Linked DNA regions of Homo sapiens. The protein of the gene in region 1 purifies or fractionates together with the protein of each later gene. This does not show direct contact. Each region holds a gene or a part of one and is shown on either strand. Other genes may lie near its edges. The genes, in order: NADK2, FBLIM1, FAIM, CLIC4, ACP6, KCTD9 and EVPL.

Region 1 (2,419 bases):
CATGTAGTCAGTGATTTTCTTTAAAAAAAGTCTTAAAGCCCGTAAGACTTAAAAACTCTTCATACCTTAATGTAGAAAACTTAATAAGCCTTCTCACTGACTTATGCCCCAATCCCTTGAGTACTTTTAATGTTAAAGTCAAGAATAAAATGCCTTTGAAAAAATAAAATTGAACTATTCTTTAGTTAGACAACTCATTAGTACATTTACTCTTATCTCCCCCACCATTATATTTAGGTGTTGCATTATCCCTGGGATCTTTTCTGCATAATTGTCTTAGTAGATGCTATTCTTAAGTATAAGGATGCATAAATAATATTGGTACAATGGAATGAATTTAAGTGATTTAAATTCTAAATGTACATTATTTTCACAACTAAGCAAAATATATAACGTATCCTTAAACTTGTATTTGACAACTTTTTCAACTCAAGTGGATATTTTACAATAAAAATGTGTTACCTGGCTCTCTTTCTGCTTATTAAAAAGTGAAATCAATGTAGTAAAACATGTAATATGATTTAATGTACAGGGGCCATGAATGTAAATGCACAAGGAGTATCAAAAATATTAAGTCAAAATTATCTGAAGAGCCTACACTGACCAGGTAAGCACTTCACCCTGATTTAATAACTAATCATTCTATGTCAAATGTTAACAGTGAATGAAGTCAACAGGGCACAGAATAATAATACACAGCAGTGGGGAAACACTTCTGAAACATAACATTTTGTGAAAACTAGTTTTCAAATAATGACCCCTTGAGAGGGAAATAAGAAATGTTAAAAAGAAGAGGTAACAGTGGAGTAATTTTATTCACATAGGGTTGCGATTAAAAGGTTAACTCATTCAAACACATTTTTGCTATGCTAACATTCCTTTGCCTCTTATTCTTACAAATAAACCCCCATCACAGAGCAGAAATGTTAGAAATTATATCACAAATGGAGCACAATAAGTATTTTTAAAACCTTTTAAAATATGGCTTATAATTTTACACAGCAAGTTACCTATTAATATGTTACATATTAACAGATCTATTTGGACAATCAGATTTCCTTGAGATTAAGGATGGAGTTGGCATTTTTCCTTTAAGAAGGCATTTTAAGGCCGGGCATGGTGGCTCATGCCTGTAATCCCAATACTGGGAGGCCGAGGCAGGCAGATCACAAGGTCAGGAGTTCGAGACCAGCCTGACCAACATGGTGAATCCCCATATCTACTAAAAATACAAAAAATTAGCCAGGCATAGTGGTGCCTGCCTGTAATCCCAGCTACTTGGGAGGCTGAGGCAGGAGAATCGCTTGAACCTGGGAGATGGAGGTTGCAGAGCCGAGATCATGCCACTGCAGTCCAGCCTGGGTGACAAAGCAAGACTCCGTTCTCAAAAAAAAAAAAAAAAAAAAAGAAGGTATTTTAAGCCTGTTAGGGGAGGTTCTATAGTATGGAGCTTCTTTATAAAGTGGTATCTTATGTATATCAAAAAAAAAAAGCCAGATCAATCTCTGGGAAAACACTACATTTTAATGTATTTCTATCTGATATGTCATAAATTCTTTGCTATGAATGTCTACGCAGATACTTTAAGAAAAATTGATTCTCTGGATATACATCAAAACCTAGATTAACTTTGTACATTAACATTTATTTTAAAAAATTGATAAGAACAACATGTTAAATATTGGCAAAACTAAGAGCACTCAATTCGACTATCCGTCCAGCTTTCACAGAATTTACTTCTGAGCCCACAAGACTCAAATTGTATAAGGATAGAGTCTGTTTCATTCATCAACATATCCAGCACCTGACATAGTTTTACATGGCACAGAGTGGGTGTTCAATAAATATTTGTCAATGATTGAACAGAAATTTTCAGCACCAAATGAAAGAAACACATGACTTTGAACAACGGCACGAGAATACCAACTGTTTGATTATGCAACGACAGGATCTTTTGGCAAAAATTCTAGGATTACTTATAAGTAGATCAATAATTAGATAATAATTTCCTCCAAAAATAAAGGAATTCTCATGGGGAAAAAAAAAAAGTCCTAACATCTTATCCTAAAAGCTATTCTGTAAATCTTGGAATATAAGCTAGGTGAAAACCACAATACTAAGGAAGGCAATTCCAAAACTACTGTGTTTTACATATTTATTAAAGAATCCATTCTTTCTGATAATACTCCTAACACAGGTGAAGATATTTTTACAATATTTTACCAAACTCCTAATAGAAAATGTCTAATCAGTTCATCCTTTTAGTCCCTGAATCCATGTTTGAGCATTTTAAAGATGGAAGAAACCTGTAAGACTCATATCATTTTAAAAAAATTGACTTAAAACACTTATTGGATAACTAATACATTTGTAACAGCATCATGATTTGTTTTGCTATCTGTATTTCACCCAGAACTGC
Region 2 (3,500 bases), on another chromosome or scaffold:
GCCCTTTCCTCCCCACCTCTGCCTCTGACGTGGTCTTCCCCAAAGTCCCCTCAGCTCTTACCTCCATTGAAGAGCTGCATAGGTGCAGCCGGCACTGTGGCTGCAGCTCTGCCAGGGGTTGTCCAGGGGCTGGGCCTCCCCGCCAAGCCAGCCTCGGGTGTCTTCATGGGGGCAGGAGCCTCCCAGGGGCGGCCACGCCGGGCCTCACAAACTGCCTGCCTCACTTCCTCCGCCACGGCCACATCGCGGCGCGGGGGTGCCAGGGTGATAAAGACAGACGATGCCACCCTCTTCTCAGGCTTTGAGGCCATGGCTTCAGCTCCTGGTGTGGCTAGGGACAGAGTGGGGTACAGCACAGGATTGCCACCCAGACACACAGCCACCCTCCCCCGAGAGGAGAGAGCCTCCCTCCTCCCAAAAAGACAGGCCAGCCACCCTACCATCTCAACAACTCAGTCCAGCACCCAGCCCAGCCAGAGAAGGGGTGGGGGTGTCCTGCTGGGGAAGACAGGACCCACCAGGGAACTTGGCCACAGGGGTGAGACCCAAAAGTCCTGACTGCCCCTCCCCCGAACCTGCACACCTAGGGGAGCAAAGGGCAGCCCTCACCAATGATCACTCTTCCTTGTCTCACACCCGCGAGGAAGGAACAGATGCTTCAGCTCCCAGCCCCAGCAGGGCTGACTTCCGTTCCCAGTCTGGAGTCCCGCCTGCCTGCTGGGCCACACCCCAAGTGACCTCCCTCACCTGGGATCAGATTCTCCTAGAAGGGCTGAAGTCCTGGAGGTTCAGGCCAGCTCTGCTTTGGGAGGGAAAGAGAACAGATCAGGATCTGCCAGGGCGTCAGGGCTAGGCTCCGGCGGCAGAGTGGGCAGGGCACAGTGAGAGCTGCCCTCACCAAGACCGGCTCTGCCCTGAGCATGTTATACTCATTAACTCATAAACACTCACACGTTATGCTCATTAACTCATAAACACTCACAAGGTGGCTGCAGGGCAGGCACTATCATCACCCACCTAACACATCAAGAAATCGAGACTCAGAGAGAAGTCACCTGTCCAGGGTCACACGGTGGTGAGGTGGCACTGGAACCCAGAGCCCATGCTCTTGGCCACTTTGCTCTGCTCTGACCTTTCTCAGCCCTGCACATGAGCCAGCACCCTCCTTGCTTGCTTTCTAGTGCCAGACTCTCTCACTCCACCCAATCTCCAAAACCTGGGTCCTGGTTCAGGCCTGGGCAGTGGGCAGGGGGCAAGGGGAGAGATGGGGAGGCTCCATGGCCTCTGGTCTCACCTCCTAACCCTGATCTTTCTAGAGCATCAATCTCTTTCTCCTTTACTCAAAAACCTTCCATGGGCCGGGCATGGTGGCTCACAGCTGTAATCCCAGCATTTTGGGAGGCCGAGGCAGGTGGATCACTTGAGGCCAGGAGTTTGAGACCACCCTGCCAACATGGTGAAACCCCATCTCTACTAAAAATACAAAAATTAGCCATGCGTGGTGGTGGGCACCTGTAATCCCAGCTACTTGGGAGGGTGAGGCAGGAGAATCGCTTGAACCTGGGAGGCCGAGGTTGTGGTGAGCCAAGATTGCACCACTGCCCTCCAGTCTGGGCAACAGAGCGAGACTCTGTCTTTTTTTATTTATTTTTATTTTTTGAGACGGAATCTTGCTCTGTTGCCCAGGCCGGAGTGCAGTGGCACGATCTTGGCTCACTGCAAGCTCCACTTCCCAGGTTCACGCCATTCTCCTGCCTCAGCCTCCCGAGTAGCTGGGACTACAGGTGCCCGCCACCACGCCCGGCTAATTTTGTTTTTGTATTTTTAGTAGTGATGGGGTTTCACCATGTTAACCAGGATGGTCTTGATCTCCTGACCTCGTGATCCGCCCACCTCAGCCTCCCAAAGTGCTGGGATTACAGGCGTGAGCCATCGCACCCCGGTGAGACTCTGTCCCAGCACTTTGGGAGGCAGAGGCAGGTGGATCACCTGAGGTCTGGAGTTCGAGACCAGCCTGGCCAACATGGTAAAACCCCATCTCTACTAAAAATACAAAAATTAGCTGGGTGTGCTGGCGGGCGCCTGTAATCCCAGCTACTTGGGAGGCTGAGGCAGGAGAATCACTTGAACCCGTGGGAGTGGAGGTTGCAGTGAGGTGAGATGGCACCATTGCACTCTAGCCTGGGCAACAAGAGCGAAACTCTGTCTAAAAAAAAAAAAAGAAAAAAAGTATGGCTCTCCACCACCTCAGGATGAAGTCCAACTGCGGCAGCCTCAGCCTCTTTGAGCCCCTGGACCACTCGCCCTTCCTATGTCCTCTCTCTTGCCTTGCAGTGTTTCTTCTATGGTTTTCCTGTCCTGCCCCCACAGGGTGAATTTCAGCTTTCTCTTAGAGGCCCAGCTCAAACATCACCTCTTCCACAAGGCACCCCCCGATTCCTGGCCCTCTCCAGGGGCAGTTTCCTGCTGCCAAGGGTGGACGAAAGCGATGATAGCCCCAGGGCAGGACAGGCTGGCTCACAAGCTCACTATCAATGCGTCTGACCGGTGTCTGCATTCTTTGTGTGCCTAGAGGATATCAGAGCGCAGGCATCAAAACCCAGATCTGGCCACCCGATGGCTCACGCCTGTAATCACAGCACTTTGGGAGGTAGGCGATCACTTGAGGTCAGGAGTTCAAGACCATCCTGGCCAACATGGTGAAACACTGTCTCTACTAAAAATACAAAAATTTGGCCTGGCGTGGAGGCTTATGCCTGTAATCTTAGCATTTTTGGAGGGCAAGGTGGTTGGATCACGAGGTAAGGAGTTCAAGACCAGCCTGGCCAAGATGGTGAAACCCTGTCTCTACTAAAAATACAAAAATTAGCTGGGCATGGTGGCAGACGCCTGTTATCTCAGCTACTCGGGAGGCTGAGACAGAGAATTGCTTGAACCCGGGAGGCGGAGGTTGCAGTAAGCCGAGATTGCACCACCACACTCCAGCCTGGGCAACAGAGCAAGAGTCTGTCTCAAAAAAAAAAAAAAAAAAAAACAAATTAGCCAGAAATGGTGGCATGCACCTGTAGTCCCCAGCTACTTAGGAGGCTGAGGCAGGAGAATCGCTTGAATCCTGGGAGGCGAGGTTGCAGTGAGCTGAGATTGTGCCACTGCACTCCAGCCGAGGTGACAGAGTGAAACTCTGTCTCGAAAAAAAAAAAAAGAAAAGCATAAATCAGAGAGCATGGTGGCACCCTGATACCCTGATGTCAGGAAAAGGACATTATTTCCCATCTCTCAGGTAGTTCCTGCTGACAGTAGTCCCTGTGGCCAAGGCTGAGGTGGGGCCATGGGTGGGAAAGCTGGGAGTCCAGTGAGCACATCAGTCCTCAGCAGGCACCCAATGCCTGTGCCCAGGGCTAAAAATGTCCCCTTTTCTATCTCGCTCTTCAGGCTTCCCTCCTTATCTCAAAGTGCACTGGCCACTTTGGGTTCACAGCGACTGATGGATGATAATAAAA
Region 3 (3,500 bases), on another chromosome or scaffold:
AAGATGGTGCAAAAGAGATACGTGTTTGGTAGGAACCATACTTTGAGTACCCATACAACCATTCACTTTCACTACAGTACAAAAAATTACAGGAGACAGCCAAGACTTCATTGTAACATAGGCTTTGTGTTAGATGATTTTGCCCAAATGTGGGCTAAGGTAAGTATTCTGAGGACACTTAAGGTAGGCAAGGCTAAGACATGATGTTTGATAGGTTAGGTGTACTAAATCCATTTTCAACTTATAATATTTTCAACTTGCAATGGGTTTATTGGGATATAACCCCATCACAAGTCAAGAAGCATCTGTACATGTTTTTGTTTTTGTTTTGAGACAGGGTCTTGTTCTGCTGCCCAGGCTGGAGTGCAATGGTATATTCAATGCTCACTGCAGCCTCAACCTCCTGGGCCCAAAGGATCCTCCCACCTTAGCCTCCAAAGTAGCTGGGACTACAGGTACACACCACCACACCCGGCTCATTTTTGTATTTATGGTAGATATGAGGTTTCACCATGTTACCTAGGCTGGTCTTGAATTTGTGGGCTCAAGTAATCCACCTGACTTGGCCTCCCAAGGTGCTGAGATTACAGGCATGAGTCACCGCACCTGGTCGTACATGTCTTTTAAATTTTTCTATGGTTTTGTATGATTTGCAGCAGCTATGCTCTATTTGTTTTCTCAAGGGGAGATGTACCTTCACAACAAAAGTTTTCTTATGATAAATGTCCAGGCTTCAGTTTTTCCATTCAACATTTGAACCTGCTATCAAGAGATACTGTACTAGACGCTGTCAGAAATTTGAAGAAAATCCTTCTTTTTTTTTGTTTTTTGAGATAGGGTCTCACTCTAGTCATCCAGGCTGGAGTGCAGTGGTGCGATCTCAATTCACTGCAGCCTCGACCTCCTGGGCTCAAACAATCCTCCCACCTCAGCCTCCTTAGTAGCTGGGACCATAGGCATGTGCCACAACACCCAGCTAATTTTGTAATTTTTTGTGAAGATGAGGTTTCACCATGTTGCCCCAGCTGGTCTCAAACTCCTGAACTCAAGTGATCCTCCCACCTCGGCCACCCAAAGTGCTGGGATTACAGGCATAAGCCACCATGCCCAGCCTGAAGAAAATGTTTCTGTCCTTAAAGAATTTGAGAGTTCAGAAATAAATCCACATATCTGTGGCCAAATGATTTTTGACAAGGGTGCCAACTCTAACTGGTGGGGAAAGAATAGTCTCTTCAACAGATGTTATGGGGAAAACTAGATTTTCATACACAAGAGAATTAAGTTGAACCTCACCTATCTCACACCATATACAAAAGTTATCTCAATGATCTAAATGTAAGAGCTAAAACCACAAAACTCTTAGAAGAAAACATAGAGGTAAATCCTCATGATCTTGGATTTGGCAATGGATTCTTAGATAGGACACCAAAAGGATAGCAGCAAAAGAAAAAAATAGATAAATTGAACTTCATCAAAAGTTAAAACTGACTGGGTGTGGTGGCTCACACCCGCATTCCCAGCAATTTGGGAGGCCAAGGTGGGAGGATTGCTTGAGCCCAGGAGTTCAAGACCAGCCTGGGCAACATAGGGAGACCCCATCTCTACAAAAAAATTTAAAAACTAGCCAGGCATGGTGGTGCATGCCTGTAGTCCCAGCTACATGGGAGGCTGAAGTGGGAGGATCACTTAAGCCTGAGAGGTCAAGGCTGCAGGTGAGCTGTGATTGCACCACTGCACTCCACCCTTGGCAACAGAATAGACCCTGTCTCAAAAAAACAAAAACAAACTAAAATTTTTGTGCATCAAAGGACATTATCTAGAAAGTGAAAGGACAAGGATGAGAGAAAATATTTGGAAATCATATATCTGATAGAGGTTTCATATTCTGAATATATAAAGAACTCTACTGCTCATAAACACAAAAGACAACCCAATTTAAAAATGGGAAAGGGGCCGGGCGCAGTGGCTCACACCTGTAATCCCAGCAATTTGGGAGGCTGAGGCGGGTGGATCACCTGAGGTCAGGAGTCCGAGACCAGCCTGGCCAACATGGTGAAACCCCATTTCTACTAAAAATACAAAAAATTAGCCGAGTGTGGTGGCAGGCACCTGTAATCCCAGCTAGCTACTCGGGAGGCTGAGGCAGGAGAATCGCTTGAACCCAGGAGGCGGAGGCTGCAGTAAACCAAGATCATGCCATTGCACTCCAGCCTGGGCAACAAGAGCAAAAGCCTGTTTCCAGGAAAAAAAAAAAAAAAAGGCAAAGGACTTCCACAGACATTATTCTAAAGAAGACATACAAATGGTCAATAAGCACATGAAAAGATGCTAAACAACATTAATCACGACAGAAATGCAAATCAAAACAACAATGAAATACAACTTCACATCTACTAGGATGGCTATACTAAAAATAAACAGAAAATAATCAGTGTTGGCAAGGATGTGGAAAAACTGGAATCCTTGTACATTGCTAGTGGGACTGTAAAATGGTGAAGTTGTCATACAAAATGATATGACAGTTCCTCAAAACCTAAACAGAGAATTACTATATGACCTAGCAATTCTGCTGCTAGGAATGCACTCAAAAAGTTTTGAAATCAGCCACTCAGACACCTGTATACTATTGTTCATTGTAGCATTTTCCAATAGCCAAAAGATGAAAACAACCCAAGTTGTCCATCAACATAAGAATAAACAAAACGCGGTACATACACTTGATCTCGGCCAAAAGGCTGAGAAGTGATAAAATGCATATATATACAAAGGATATTCCTTTTCATTCAGCCAAAATAAGGAGTGATATTCTGACATATGCTATAACATGGATGAACTATGAAAACTTTATGCTAAGTGAAATAGCCAGACAAGGCCGGGCGCGGTGACTCACGCCTGTAATCCCAGCACTTTGGGAGGCCGAGGCGGGCGGATCACGAGGTCAGGAGTTCGAGACCATCCTGGCTAACACGGTGAAACCCCGTCTCTACTAAAACTACAAAAAAATTAGCCAGGCGTGGTGGCGGGCGCCTGTAGTCCCAGCTACTCAAGAGGCCGAGGCAGGAGAATGGCGTGAACCCGGGAGGCGGAGCTTGCAGTGAGCTGAGATCGCACCACTGCACTCCAGCCTGGGTGACAGAGCGAGACTCCGTCTCAAAAAAAAAAAAAAAAAAAAAATAGCCAGACAAAAAATGACAAATATGATTCCACTTATATAAAATACCCAGAAAAGGGACATTCGTAGAGGCAGAAAGCAGATTAGATGTTCCCTGGGAATGGGGGAAGGGAACAATGAGAAGTCTCAGTCTCTTTCATGCTGCTACAAAGGAATACCCGAGGTTGCATAATTTATAAAGAAAAAAGGTTTATTTAGCTCATGATTCTGATGTCTGGAGAAGCTCAAGATTGGGCATCTGCATTTGGTGAGGGCCTCAAGTTGCTTCTACTCATGGCAGAAGGCAAAGGAGAGCTGGCTGTGTAGAGAGCATGTGACCAGAGAGAAA
Region 4 (3,500 bases), on another chromosome or scaffold:
TTTTTTTTTTGAGACAGAGTCTCACTGTCGCCCAGGCTGGAGTGCAGTGGTGTGATCTTAGCTCACTGCAACCTCCGCCTCCCGGGTTCAAGAGATTCTCCTGCCTCAGCCTCCTGAGTAGCTGGGATTACAGGCGTGCACCATCATGCCTAGCTAATTTTTGTATTTTTAGTAGAGATGGGGCCAGGAGTGGTAGCTCACGCCTGTAATCCCAGTACTTTGGGAGGCCGAGGCGGGCAGATCATGAGGTCAGGAGTTCAAGACAAGCCTGACCAACATGGTGAAACCCCATCTCTACTAAAAATACAAAAATTTAGTTTTTATAGAGATGAGGACTCACTATTTTGCCCAGCCTATAATTTTTTTTTTTTTTTTGAGACGGAGTCTTACTCTGTCGTCCAGGCTGGAGTGTAGTAACACAATCTCAGCTCACTGCAACCTCCGCCTCCCAGGTTAAAGCAATTCTCCTGCCTCAGCCTCCCGAGTAGCTGGGATTACAGGCGCCCACCACCACGCCCAGCTAATTTTTGTATTTTTAGTAGAGACAGGGATTCACCATGTTGGCCAGGCTGGCCTTGAACTCCTGACCTCAGGCGATCCACCCACCTCGGTCTCCCAAAGTGCTGGGATTACAGGTGTGAGCCATGGCAGTGGGCCTATCATTGTTATTTCTTATTTCTTATACCAATATCTGGAACTGACCACTGAGAGATAAGAGGCAAGTCTCGAAATAGACAATATAATTAAAAGCCATGAGAAAATTCACTAGCTGATGCCCTAAATTACATTTACATGTCTTAAATCATCCTTGGACAATAGGTAACCATGACCTAATGTCATTTTCCTTCAGAAAGTCCCTTTCCATTCTCTATGCAAGCGTCTAAAACAGGCAAACCCATCCTAGCTTACTCCTCTACTTGACCAAAATCTTAACTCATGCCTTAATCACACTTCCCATCCTGCCTAACACATTTTCCTTTTATGGACTCACAATTCCCTACTCAGGGGACATCAGAACACGGAGGCTCCACAGCTCTAACGAAACAGGAAGCGGAAAAGGATGGCTCACCATCCTTACTTACTGGCTTCTAGGCACCTCTGCAGGCATCTTCCCAAACCAACTGTGACATTTCCTGACAGCCAGGTTCTTCTCCCAATTGCCTCTTTCCTATCATTATTCATACTCTGTTAAGCTTTTCGTGTGCTCAGTCTCCTAGGCTCAAAGCCTCCTGCCTCTTCCCCATTCTAGGCTCCTTTCTCACAGGTTTTTACATTAAACCAAAATCATCAAATTTGGCCTTTGCCAAAAGTAGCATTATTAGGTCTTCAGGAACAGCTCAGGCAAAAAGTTAAAATAATAGGTTTTCATTAACTTCATACTTTACATTCATTTCTGTCTCCTGAATTTTCCCCCCGGAAACCTCAAATGAATGGCAAATCAATTAGATTCAAGGTAATATTGTCTGAATATTGAGTTAGCTTTTGTTAATTACCAGAACAGTTTTCAGCATCATTTCCTATAGAAAATTTATTTCATTTTTTTCTGTTAGAAAAAACAAAGACGGGGGGAAGTTTGAAGCCTGTCCTTGAAACAATATAAAGAATTCCCACTTTAAACTGTCAAAACAGTCCATCTGTACAATCCATTTGCACCTTCCCAAGTGCCACTGAAAAGTTATTAAACAGACAGCAATCCAAAAACACAGGAAAGTGTGGGGAGAATGAAAAAAGTTAGGAAAATGTATACATTAACAAAAACCCAAGTTAGGTTTTAAAAGTCTCATCCTCAACTTTTAAATAACTTGTCTCCCTGGCACTATAGATCTGAATCACTCCTGGTTCCTTCTTAGGTATCAATCTACCAATTGTTTCCTGCATAAGGAGTTTCCACATAATGTCAAAACTCACATTCCCATTCTTGGCTATTCCGAACCCACCTATTCACCTCCTTTTTCAAGGTCAAGTTTAAGCCTCCTTCCATCTTTCCCCATGTCTCCTAGCCCTACTTAATGTGAGCCCCACTTGACTCTTTAAGCATGGACCATCTTGTATTGTTTTCTTTCCAATAAAATTTGTAAACCTAAAGAAATTAACTGTTTAATAATTTCTTATATCTTCCATAGTACTTAACTCAGTATTAGCACTTAGTTCATGCCGGTACATTCTTTAAGTCATAGTTAATAATAACTAGAAGAGACCTTTGTGATCATCTAGCCCAAGCCCTTCTTTTATACCTTGCTTATATAAAGTATTCTTGACTCTAAGAATTCCACTATTTACTTCTTTTAGAACAGTGGTTCTTAGCCTTGGTTTAGGAATTTCCAGAAAAAAAGCCTCACATTAGAATTTTTTACTGTAATTTCAAGGATTTACAGAACTCCCTGATCCTACTAATAGAGCCCACATTTAAAAATAATATACTATTAGGCTGGGCGCGGTGGCTCACGCCTGTAATCCCAGCACTTCGGGAGGCCAAGGCGGGCAGATCATGGGGTCAGGAGATCGAGACCATCCTGACCAACACGGTGAAACCCCATCTCTACTAAAAATACAAAAATTAGCTGAGCATGGTGGCACGCGCCTGTAGTCCCAGCTACTCCAGAGGCTGAGGCAGAAGAATCGCTTGAACCCGGGAAGCAGAGGTTGCAGTGAGCCAAGATTGCACCACTGCATTCCAGTCTGGCGACAGAGCGAGACTCCGTCTCAAAAAAAAATAATAATAATAAACTATTATCGATGACAAAAGCAGGTGTTTACTATGTGTCAAGCACTCTTCCTAAAGCTTTACATAGGATGGTATACGGTTAGACCACACTTGCCAGCCTCTCTTGCAGATGAAGCTATGTGATTAAGTTCTCTCCAATAGAATGTGACCGGAAGTAACAGGTAGAACTTCTGAGCTGGGGCCCTTAAGATGTGCTTCCTCCATATTTTCCACCCCCCACTGGCAACAGACAGTACTTGTCACCCACCAACTTTGACAATTCAGAAGAGGACAATGCTCTGGGAGTTAGTGGACAAATAAGCTAGAAAGAGCCCGGGTCCCTTAATGACTCTGAGGAGGAAAGCCACCCTAACATCTAAGACATTCTCCTGGACTGAGGGGTGAGAAATAAACTTCCATCATATTTGAACCACTGTTTGTGGGGGGATAACTTATTACAGCAACTTAAACTACCCTAACTAATATGCACAGATTAACAGTTTTAATCCCCTCAGTAACCATATAAAATTGCTATTATTATTATCCTGATATTAGAAGTTAGGAAACTGAAGCACTGAGAGCTTAAAAACTTGCCTGACATACTAGAAGCCAGATTCAAGTCAAGCAGTGTGGCTCCAGAGTCCAAGCACATTAGGAACCTCTGCCAAATATCTCAAAAGAAACAGACTCTTATGTGTTATGCCACCCTGCACCAGATTAACTTTTTACAAACACCACCCCAATCCCAGCAGCTTGGTGACTACTTGCTGACAGTGATCATCCCAGTTCACAGTGG
Region 5 (3,500 bases), on another chromosome or scaffold:
AACCTCAAACCTTTGGCTCCCTGTGGATCCACTATCCCCACACCAAGCCCTGTTGATCACTGCCTAGAAGAAAAGTCCCTCCCAATGGTCCTTCCATTATCTTATTGTAGAATGTAAACCTTATTAGTGCCTGTGACAAACTCCTCCCTTTCACCTGCACAATCCATCTATCCATAGCCAACTAATTAATCTTTTTGGAAAAAATATTTTTATTGCATTTAAATATTTTGTTTTATTTTTAATTGACAAATAATTGTATATTGTATATATTTATGGAGTACAATGTGATGTTTTCATATATATTTACATTTGATATATGATTAACTAATGTAAACAAAATCCATCAGCTCACATACTTTCATTTTTACGTGATGAAAATATGTAAAGTTAACCTTTTAGTAACATAGGCATACATCATTTTATTGCTCTTTACAGAGATTGCATTTTTCACAAATTGAAGGTTTGGAGAACTCTGCATTGAGCAAGTCTATCAGTGCCATTTTTCCAACAGCATGTGCTCATTCATGTCTCTGTGTAAAATCTGGTAATTCTCATAATATTCCAAACTTTTTCATTACTATTAAATCTGTCAAGGTGATCTATGATTTATGATTTGTTTTTCTTTTTGAAATGGGGTCTGGCTCTGTTGCCCAGGCTGGAGTACAGTGGCATGATCTTGGCTCACTGAAACGTCTGCCTCCTGGAGTGCAGTGGCATTACCTTGGCTCATCCTCTCACCTCAGCCTCCCGAGCAGCTGGGACTACAGGCATATACCATCATGCCCAGCTAATTTTTTTTTTTTGAGAGACAGGGTTTTGCCATGTTTCCCAGGCTGATCCTGAACTCTGTGATCTTTGATGTTACTATTTTAACTATTTGGGAGCGCCACAAACCGCCCCCATATAAGATGCCAAACTTAATCAATAAATGTTGTGTGTTTTCTGAGTGCTCTGCTGACTGGTATTTCCCCCATCTCTCTCCCTCTCCTTGAGCCTCCTTATTTCCTGAGACACAACAATATTAAAATTAGTCCAGTTAATAACCCTACAATGGCCTCTAAGTGTTAAGTGAAAGGAAAAGTTTCAAGTTTCTCACTTTAAATCCAAAGCTAGAAATGATTAAGCTTAGTAAGGAAGGCATGTAGAAAGCTAAGATAAGCCAAAACCTATGCCTCTTGCACCAAACAGCCAAGTTATGAATGCAAAGGAAAAGTTCTTGGAGGAAATTAAAAGTACTACTCTGGTGAACACACAAACAATGAGAAAGTGAAACAACCTTATTGATAACATGGAGATATTCAATGCAGAAGAAACAGCCTATATAGGAAGAAGATCCCAGCTAAGACTTTCATAGCTAGAGAGAAAGTCAATGCCTGGCTTCAAAGCTTCAAAGGACAGGCTGATTCTCATTAGGGATTAATGCAGCTGGTTTCCTTAAGGTGAAGCCAAGGCTCATTTACTATTCTGCAAATCCTACAGCCCTTAAGAATTATGCTAAATGTACTCTGACTGTGCTGTATAAATGGAACAACAAAGCCTGCATGGCAGGACATCTGTTTACAGCATGGTCTACTTAATATTTTAAGCCCACTGTTGAGACCTACTGCTCAAAAGAAAAAATTGATTCCTTTCCAAATATTACTGCTCATTGACAATGCACCTAGTCACCCAAAGGCGCTAATGGAGATGTACAAAATTAATATTGTTTTTGTGCCTGCTAACACAATGTCCTTTCTGCAGCCCATGGCCCAAGGAGTAATTTTGACTTTCAAGTCTTTATTATTTAAGAAATACATTTTGTAAGGCTATTGTTGCCCTAGATAGTGATTCCTCTGATGAATCTGGGCAAAGTAAATTGAAAACCTTATGGAAAGAATTCACCATTCTAGATGTCATTAAGAACATTTATAAGGAGGAGGTCAAAATAGCAACATTAAGCGAAGTTTGGAAGATTTGACTCCAACCCTCATGGATGACTTTGAAGATTCAGGCTTCCGTGGAAGAAGTAACTGCAGATGTGATGGAAATAGCAAGAGAACTAGAATTAGATGTGGAACCTTAAGTTCTGACTGAATTGCTGCAATCTCATGATAAAACTTGAATGCATGAGAAGTTACTACAAAGAAGTGGTTCCTTGAGAGGGAATCTAGTCCTGGTGAAGATAGTGTGAACACTGTTGAAATTACAACAATGGATTTATTACATAAACTTAATTGATAAAGCAGTGGCAGAGTTTGAGAAGATTGACTCCAATTTCAAAAGATGTTCTATTGTGGGTAAAATGCTATTAAACTGTGTCATAAGCTACAGAGAAATCTTTCATGAAAGGAAGAGTCTATCAATGTGGCAAACTTTACTGTTGTCTTATTTTTAGAAATTGCCACAGCCACCCCAACCTTTAGCAACTACTACCCTGATCAGTCAGCAGCCATCAACATCAAGGCAAGACCCTCCACTGGCAAAAAGATCATGACTCACTGAAGGCTCAGGTAATCACTAGCACTTTTTAGGAATAAAACATTTTTAAATTAAGGTATGTACATTTTTAGACATGCTATTGCATGATAGGATACAGAAGAGTGTAAACACAACTTTTATATGCACTGGGAAACAAAAAACAACTGTGGGTCTCACTTTATTGCGATATTTGCTTTATTGTGGTGGTCTAGACCTGAATCTGCAATATCTTCAAGGTATGCTTGTCTGTGTAGAATCTAAAGAAGTCAAAGTCACAGAATTAGAGAGTAGAGTGATGGTTATCAGAGGTGGGGGGGTGCAGTAAATGGGGAAAGAGAGATTTTTATCAATGGGTACAAAATTTCAGTTACACAGGAAGAATAAGCTTTAGTGATCTATTGTACAGGATGGTGACTACAATAAATAATAATGCATTGTATGTTTCAAAATCACCTAATTAATCTTGCTAAGCCAGTGTCATCATATCAGTAACTTTTTCCTAATGTCTCAGAGGAAAGCATCTGTCCTTCAAGAACTTCTACATCGTGGCTGAGTGCAGTGGCTCATACCTGTAATCCTAGCACTTTGGGAGGCTGAGGTGGGAGCATCACTTGAGGCCAGGAGTTCAAGATCAGCCTGGGCAACACAGCAAGACCCCATCTCTTAAAAAAATTTTAAAAAAGGACTTCTACCCCCTTTGTCCAGCCCCTGTACTCAGCTTCACTGCCTCTTTCCTCCCCTCCAACCTAGAACCTGCCCACTGTTTCTGCATCTTCTTCCAGCTTGCTTCTCTTGCTTGGAGGGACTCCTGTTCCTATCTGCCCATCACCTTGTCTTCAATGTTCAAGGATAGCTCAAGTCTTACTTCCCTATCACTGACCACTCTGGCTTTTGATGGTTATCTTTTAAATCTGAATTCCTATAACATTGATAACAAAAAAAATTTAACTCAATTTCCTACTACTTTGTTTAGTTTTAAAACTAACATTTGGAAACCTACTATGTCACATATCGTCATATTTATCTTCTACCCTCCCCGAACT
Region 6 (3,500 bases), on another chromosome or scaffold:
ACCAAGTACTGGAAATAAACCGTGGTGATGGTTACACACATTGTGAATGTAAACAATGTCAATGAATTACACATTTAAAAAATGGTTAAAATAATAAATTTTGTTCCATCTTTTATCACAATAAAAAAAATACTGCAAAGCACTTGGCACAGTGTCCTACACACAGCAGGCTTGCCATAAATAATTAAAGCCTGAGTAGGGCTGGGCGCGGTGGCTCACGCCTGTAAAATCTGCACTATGGGAGGCTGAGGCGGATGGATTGCTTAAGCTCAGGAGTTCGAGACCAGCTTGGGCAACACAGTGAAACCCCATCTCTACTAAAATACAAAAAATTAGCCGGGCGTGGTGGCGTGTGCCTGTAGTCCCAGCTACTTGGGAGGCTGAGGCAGGAGAATTGCTTCAACCCGGGAGGCAGAGGTTGCAGTTAGCTGAGATCACACCACCACACTCCAGCCTGGGCGACAAAGTGAGACTCCTTCTCCAAGAAAAAAAAAAAGAAAAAAAAGCCTGACTAAAACATGTCCCCCATATTTCCTATGATTGTTCACCTCTGCAACACAGTGAGGTATTCTGTAATTGCATTATACACATTCCTGGGACAAAGCGAAGCGAAATACAGTACCTAGGGCATTGCACACGGCAAAGCTGGGGTTGTGTTAAGGCAAAGAGCATGAAGAGAGTAAAGACAGAGAAGAGAGAAGCAAACATGCAAAGGAGCAAGAGATTGACCAAAGCAGATGCAAAACAACTCCTGCAGTCAGAAGGTGCTGTGAAAAGAGGGTAAGAAGCACAAGCACCTCTTTCCCAATTCAATGTTCTTGGCATAGTTGCCATCATACAAAGAATTTTCTAAATCTTTCTTTTCCCTCTTATTTACCTCTGGCTCTTACATCTCAGTATGGCTTTCTTTTGCCTGATATCCCCTCCTTGCCCTAACATCAACTTTCTCTCTCAGCATCTCTTTCACTGTTCTCTCTTGGCCATACCAAAAAATAGATGCAAGTTGAATGCACCTGCCTGTATTATGCTTAATACTTAATGTAATATTATAGCTTAAGATCTTATATGACTTATTCAAAATACACTAACTTGAATTGTCGTCTACTTCCATATGATTGACTTGGTTTTTCTGTGGGTCTATTGTCTTCCGATGAAAATAAAGGCCACCTGCCATGTTTTAAAGCTGTGCTGTCCAGTGTGGAAGCCACTAGCTTCATGAGTCTATTTAAATTTTAATCTATTAAAATTAAAAGTTAAAATGCAGTTCAGTCACACTAGCCACATTTCAAGTGCTCAACTGCCACACTGGCTAATTGTTACCATATTGAATAGCACAAATTTCCATCATCTCAGTAGTTCTATTAGACAGTGCCATTTTAAAGAGCAGAAAAAAAAAAATGAAGAAAAAAAAACACAACTATTTTAATTCTATTAGGCTTTCCCATGACATAGGAACCCAAAGTAACAAACTGATGAAATACAACTCAAGACCTGTTTGTTGTTTTATTTAGAGGGTTGGGATGTTGCCATCTTCTGTTTCTTCCCCACTGAAGTCAAATGTGACCAGATGATAGAAAAAAACCACACATACTGCTTGGCAAGGACTATTTTCAAGGCAATCAAAGTACAACAGGTATTTCCTTGTAGGCTGTAAAACTACTAAGGAGCACAGTCTAGGTATAAATTGAATTCAACTTTTATTGCCACTTAAATCAATCCTAATAAGGTATCAAAAACAATTTACCGTATCACTAAATATTTTCTAATCTGGCTGTCTGCCTGGATCCTAAAGGTCCAATAAAAAAAATTAATTTGCAAAAAGTTGTTATGAATTCTGTGAATAGAGGTGACCAATTATCCCTTGGTAAAGCTGATAAGCAGCACTAAAGAAGTACATTCCTGAGCTGTTCTACTAATAACCGCCATAGGTTCAAATGGTACATTACCTGGCTTACAGCAGGTCTTTGACAAATATTTCTTGAATGTTGAGTGTTGAAGTAGGACACACCTTTTTTGTGTGACAGTCATATTCATTTAAGTCTCTTACACTGTCATTAGGGTAAAAAAATACACAGTATAAATGCAATTCTAAAGCAGTCTGGGCATGGTGGCTCAAGCCTGTAATGCCGGCACTTTTTGGGAGGCCAAGGTGGGTGGATCACCTGAGGTCAGGAGTTCAAGACCAGCCTGGCCAACATGGTAAAACCGTGCCACCACGCCCAGCTAATTTTTGTATTTTTAGTAGAGACGGGGTTTCACCATGTTGGCCAGGAGGGTGTCAATCTCTTGACCTCGTGATCCAACCGCCTCAGCCTCCCAAGTGCTGGGATTACAGGCATGAGCCACCACACCCTGCTAAGTTTTTTGCTTTATTTTGTTTGTTTTCCAAATTTGTTACAATGAACCTATATTACTTTTGTAATAAGGGGGGAAGTTTTAATTTATTTTAAGGTCTCCATAGCTCCAGATACTAGTTCTATAAATAAAATTATTTTAGCAGTTTGCAATCAGGCAGTTAACAATTTCCTTTAAGTGAAATAACCAAAGGGTGGTCAATTAGAGAAAACAGAATTAAAATTAATACGAAGAATCTTATAGTTCTAGAAATTTGAAAATTTCCCTTAAGTTGGGCCAATATACTTGTTTTCACTTGGAGGGCTATTCTTGACGTTTGTTTTCCAACTAATCATTCGCACATACTAACAATACCATACAAATAAAAAGGAGTTATGTTGCAATACTAATATTCAAATATGCAAAAACTCTGTATTTTAAACTAATTAGAAACCAGGTTTTAAAATATATATATCAACATAAATTTGTCATACATATGGAAAAGATGATTAAGTTACGGAGAAAGTTGCAAACAGACTGGCACATGCATTCTTCTTTATATAACTCTTTTGAGAAAGAGGAGCAATAAAAATCTTGTATATCATGGACATAAGCTCCAGTTAGTATATACTAAGATTGTTTTTGTCCTCATACTGAGCCAAATAAATCATAAAATGATAGTGCTTACAAAGGTCATTTACTTTGTATGTGTTATCTCCACCATGTGGCCTGATGTTTCCATGTCACTGGGATTATCTACCTTAACAACTTAGGCCCTAAGAATAGAAGCATTTTACATTTATTGAGAAGCATGTCTATTAAAGTTCATGATGTCTGTATTATACTACTTTTCAGAGTCAATTATTTTTAAATTTCAGATCCCATGACAAGTGAAAGCTGCCTATGAGTTGGAGAGTAAATGGAACACCATGCCTAGTACGATTGGCTAGTTTTAATTTACCTTTAAACACCATTTTCAAATTGTAACCTGTATTATTTAAATTTAAAAATTAAAACCTGCACATGCATGTAAAATATTTTTTTCTTTTATACCCACAAGATTTATTACATAATACACAATAAATACACAAGTATTTGTGTATTTGAATTCAACTTTTATTGCCACTTTAATCAATCCTAATAAAGTATCAAAAACAATTTACCAT
Region 7 (3,962 bases), on another chromosome or scaffold:
TCGCTGTCTCAGGTCTACCCTGTTGCCCAGGGTAGAGTGCAGTGGCATGATCTCTGCTCACTGGAACGTCCGCCTCCCAGGTTCAAGTGATTCTCCTGCCTCAGCCTCCTGAGTAGCGGGAATTTTAGGTGTGCACCACCACACCCAGCTAATTTTTGTATTTTTAGTAGAGTCGGGGTTTCACCGTGTTCGTCAGGCTGGTCTCGAACTCCTGACCTCGGATCCACCCGCCTTGGCCCCCCTAAATGCTGGTATTACAGGTGTGAGCCACTGTGCCCGGCCTCCTTTAGTGATTTTAAACCATAATCTCTTTCCATGACCTGCCACTGCATCCCTGCCCCGCACTCAAGGAGGCACAGCCCTCCGAGGATGCCTGTTTCCCAGGCAGGCAAATTGAGCACGTCCGCCCAGGCAAGGACTTGAGCAACGCTGTCCTTGCACTCATCCCCCAGACACATGGGTCCTGCACTCTCAAATGTGAATGAATGGGACACCACATGGCACGGGGAGACAGAATTCGTTTATTGGGATCACTGGGTGGAGGTGGAGGAAGAACTGAGTGGCTGCTGTCCTGGTCTGGGGATGGATCAGGCACCAAGGTTAGGGGAGGGAGCCCATCACCATGTTAGTAAAATAATAAAACAGTGGTTGGACAGAGGGAAGACCCACTGCCTGGGATGAGGCTGCTCTGAGGCAAGAGGTGTACGTATCCTACCTGGCCCAACACACGCACTTCCCCACTGGCTCCTTGGCCCGTGTCAGCGAAGGGAGCGCGGGACGGTGGGGGAGGCGGAGCGGTAGCAGCGGTACCCCTCCAGTGCCGCTGGCAGGAGCAGCAGGCCGCTCAGGGGGTCTTTGCGGCAGCGGCCCATGGCCTCCTTGTAGCTCAGCCGTTCCTTGGAGATGGGGTCTGTCAAATCCTTCTCGTAGCTGGACTCGTCCTGCAGGAGCTGGGCCAGCTCTTCACTGATCATCCCGGAGAGGAGGGCCTGCTGGATGGGGATGCGGCCTGTCCTCTTGGGGTCGATGAGCCCCCCGGTCAGGTGCTGCACCTGCAGGTGTGGGAGCACGCTCTCCCGGGGCATCCAGCCCTTCTGGACGGCCTCGCCCACCGAGAGCCTCTTCTTGGTGACGGGGTCCTCGATGCCGGTGAAGGCCTTCTGGGCGTTAAGCAGCCTCTGTGTGGAGGTGTTCTCGATCAGGCCCCTCTCCATCGCCTTGTGCACAGAGTAGCGCTCACGGCTGAGCAGGTCCACGATGCCCCCTGTGGCCGCCTGGGCCTCCAGTAGCTTCTGCCCAGTGATGGGGTCCAGCATGTTCTTGGCCACGGCCGTCTTGATGCTGCACTTGTTGTCTGTGGTTGTGTCATAGATCCCGGCGATAGGGAAGCTGTCATCACCGAGCCCGAGAGAGAAGCTGGGAGAGAAGAAACTGGTGCTCTGGGGGGCCGGGGAGGCGAGCGGGGACTTGGAGATGATAGAGCCGATGGAGAGTGAGGAGCTTGGCTTGGTCTCCCCAGCTACAAGCAGCGCAAACTCGGAGATGGGCAGGTGGCCGTCCTTGTACAGATGGTACTCCTCCTTAGAGATGCGCCGGCAGCGGAGGGCGGCCTCGATGGAGTACTGCTTCCCGCTCTTGCGGTCCAGGAGCACAGACTCCTCCCCACAGGGCCCCGAGGTGGTGACCTCCTCCCAGTCACACTCGAGCTCCTGCAGCTGCAAGTACTGGCCCCTGTCGATGATGCCCCTCTTGTAGGCCTCGTATGGGGACATGTCCTTCCCCGTCTCGGGTTCCAGGATGGAGATCTTGGTGGAAAGGTTGGTCTCTCGCGTCTGGGTCTCCTGGCTGAGCTCCTCCCGGCTCACCTTGGCGTGGAGGTCCCGGAGCGTCCGCTCCTTCTCGTAGATCTGGTCCTTCTCGCGGAGGATGGCCGCCTCCAGCCGCGAGAGCTCCTGGCCCCGCTGGGCCGCCTTCTGTCGCTCGCTCTCCGTCTTCTGGCTGAGCAGCTTCGACTCCTCCTGCAGCTGCAGTGTCTGCTGCTGCTTCTGCCTCTCCAGAGCCCGCAGCTCCTGCTGCAGCCGCCCACACTCCTGGTCGGCCTGGTCCCGGGCCCTCTGCAGCTCGGACTCCTCCCGGGACCAGGTTCTCCCCAGCGTCTCGGCCCGGTCAATGCGCTCCCGCAGGCGCCGTGCCTCCTCCTCCCGGGCCTGCCGGGCCGTGCGCTCCCTGTTGAGCATCTCCCACACGCGGGCCCGCTCATCTTCCAGGACGCGGTCCTTCTGCACCCGGATCACTTCCTTGTAGATGGTCTTCTCCTGCGATTTGGCTTTCTGGAGGACGTCAATCTGGACCTGCAGGTTCTTGCACTCCCGATTCAGCTCGGTTACCTGGGTCTTCTCCTGGTCCAGGTCCCACCGCAGGGCTTCCGTGGACTTCTCCAGGTCCGGGTCCTTCTCCAGCTTGACCACTTCCTCCATGATGATCTTCTCCTGCACCGTGGGAGGCCGCTTCTCGAGCTCCTGGATCCTCAAGGTCAGCTGCCGCAGCTCCCTCTCCACGGCCAGCTTCTTGCTGCGGTCCTCCTGGAAGCTGAGCAGGCCCTCCTGCTCCTCCACGCCGGCCCGCAGCTGCTGCACCTCAAGCTCTAGCTGGCGCCGCCGGCCCACCTCCTCATCCAGGCTCCCGCTCAGCCGGCTGTGCTCCTCGCGCAGCTTCGGGTCCTTCTGGGTGACCACCACCTCCTGCACCACCACCTTCTCCTCGGGCTTCCTCCTCTCCAGCAGCAGGCGCTTGCTCTGCAGCTCGTACACCGCGTCCTCCGCGGCCCGCCTCTTCTGGGCCGCCTCCCGCACCTCCTGGCGGAGCCGCTCTGCTTCTTTCTCCAGCACCGGGTCCTTCTCGTGGCGCACCACCTCCTTGCTCACCGTCTTGGTCTCCACCTTGGCCCGCTCGCGCCTCCACTCGTCGCGCTCACCCTGCAGGCGGATGAGCTGCTCCTGGGAGCGCCCGTGGCTGTTGACGAGCTCGTTGAGCTGAGCCTTCAGGCGGTCGATCTCACGCAGCACCTCGGGGCTCCTCTCATGCCTCACCACCTCCTGGGTCACCTCCTTGTACTCCACCGTGGGCTTCTGGGCCCGCAGGACCTCCAGGTCGGGCAGCAGCTTCTCCACCTCCTTCTCCACACCGCTCCTCTTGCCCGCCATCTCCTGCAGCTTGGCCTTGAGCCGAGTGATCTCCTGCTCTGTCTCCGGATCCACCTGGAAGATCTCGTGGACGCGCTCCTGGAGCTGCACTTTGGGCCTCTGCTTCTCCACCACGCTGTACTTGCTGTGCAGGTCGCTCAGCTCCCTGGCCAGCGTCGCGTTCTTGGTCCTCTCCTCCTCGAGGAGGCTCCTCAGCCTGGAGGACTCCTGGAGGAGCCCTGGGTCCTGCTCCACCTTCTTCACCTCCTTCACGATGACCTTGGGCTCCACCGAGCTGATAGCCCGCTCCAGGTCTTCGATGCGAGCCTGTAGCTTGGCCACAGCCTCCTCCGCCTGCTTCCTCCGCGCAGCATCCTCCTCCATCTGCAGCCTCAGAGCCTGGGCTGCCTTGACCATTTCCAGATTCTTCTCCACCTTGACTACCTCTTTCACCACGACCTTCTCCTTCACGTCCACCTCCCTCTTCTCAAGGGCCAGTAGCTCCTTCTTCAGCCCTTCCAGCCGGGCCGAGATGACGGCATCCTCCCCGCGGAGCTGCTGGATCTGGATCCTGAGCTGGGCCGCCTGGCTGTCCAGGCCGGGGTCCCTCTCCACCTGGGTGACCTCCTTGGTCAGCAGATGAGGCTGCATGGTCTTCCTCTTGCTTTCCAGCTGCACGACCTTCTGGGCTGCCACTTCCAGGTCTGCCTGCAGGCCAGCCCGCCGCTTGCCCTCCTCCTCCACCTGGGCCTTCACCCTGGACAGGCTGCCCTCCAGCTG

The links.
Region 2: the proteins of NADK2 (region 1) and FBLIM1 fractionate together in Homo sapiens (co-fractionation; one large-scale study listed by BioGRID). This does not show direct contact.
Region 3: the proteins of NADK2 (region 1) and FAIM fractionate together in Homo sapiens (co-fractionation; one large-scale study listed by BioGRID). This does not show direct contact.
Region 4: the proteins of NADK2 (region 1) and CLIC4 fractionate together in Homo sapiens (co-fractionation; one large-scale study listed by BioGRID). This does not show direct contact.
Region 5: the proteins of NADK2 (region 1) and ACP6 fractionate together in Homo sapiens (co-fractionation; one large-scale study listed by BioGRID). This does not show direct contact.
Region 6: the proteins of NADK2 (region 1) and KCTD9 fractionate together in Homo sapiens (co-fractionation; one large-scale study listed by BioGRID). This does not show direct contact.
Region 7: the proteins of NADK2 (region 1) and EVPL fractionate together in Homo sapiens (co-fractionation; one large-scale study listed by BioGRID). This does not show direct contact.

The regions. Positions count from the first base shown.
Region 1 is NC_000005.10:36,192,089-36,194,507, forward strand, and holds the end of NADK2 (NAD kinase 2, mitochondrial), read right to left. Parts: 3' UTR 612-2,419; coding exon of another isoform or gene 533-611; 3' UTR 501-532; downstream 1-500. UniProt on the Homo sapiens protein: Mitochondrial NAD(+) kinase that phosphorylates NAD(+) to yield NADP(+). Can use both ATP or inorganic polyphosphate as the phosphoryl donor.
Region 2 is NC_000001.11:15,761,795-15,765,294, reverse strand, and holds part of FBLIM1 (filamin-binding LIM protein 1), read right to left. Parts: intron 803-3,500; exon of another isoform or gene 800-802; 5' UTR 610-799; intron 332-609; 5' UTR 312-331; coding exon 62-311; intron 1-61. UniProt on the Homo sapiens protein: Serves as an anchoring site for cell-ECM adhesion proteins and filamin-containing actin filaments. Is implicated in cell shape modulation (spreading) and motility.
Region 3 is NC_000003.12:138,611,771-138,615,270, reverse strand, and holds part of FAIM (fas apoptotic inhibitory molecule 1), read right to left. Parts: intron 1-3,500. UniProt on the Homo sapiens protein: Plays a role as an inducible effector molecule that mediates Fas resistance produced by surface Ig engagement in B cells.
Region 4 is NC_000001.11:24,751,947-24,755,446, reverse strand, and holds part of CLIC4 (chloride intracellular channel protein 4), read right to left. Parts: intron 1-3,500. UniProt on the Homo sapiens protein: In the soluble state, catalyzes glutaredoxin-like thiol disulfide exchange reactions with reduced glutathione as electron donor. Can insert into membranes and form voltage-dependent multi-ion conductive channels.
Region 5 is NC_000001.11:147,660,525-147,664,024, forward strand, and holds part of ACP6 (lysophosphatidic acid phosphatase type 6), read right to left. Parts: intron 1-3,500. UniProt on the Homo sapiens protein: Hydrolyzes lysophosphatidic acid (LPA) containing a medium length fatty acid chain to the corresponding monoacylglycerol.
Region 6 is NC_000008.11:25,448,434-25,451,933, forward strand, and holds part of KCTD9 (BTB/POZ domain-containing protein KCTD9), read right to left. Parts: intron 2,049-3,500; exon of another isoform or gene 1,947-2,048; intron 1,238-1,946; exon of another isoform or gene 1,090-1,237; intron 1-1,089. UniProt on the Homo sapiens protein: Substrate-specific adapter of a BCR (BTB-CUL3-RBX1) E3 ubiquitin-protein ligase complex, which mediates the ubiquitination of target proteins, leading to their degradation by the proteasome.
Region 7 is NC_000017.11:76,006,345-76,010,306, forward strand, and holds the end of EVPL (envoplakin), read right to left. Parts: coding exon 759-3,962; 3' UTR 501-758; downstream 1-500. UniProt on the Homo sapiens protein: Component of the cornified envelope of keratinocytes. May link the cornified envelope to desmosomes and intermediate filaments.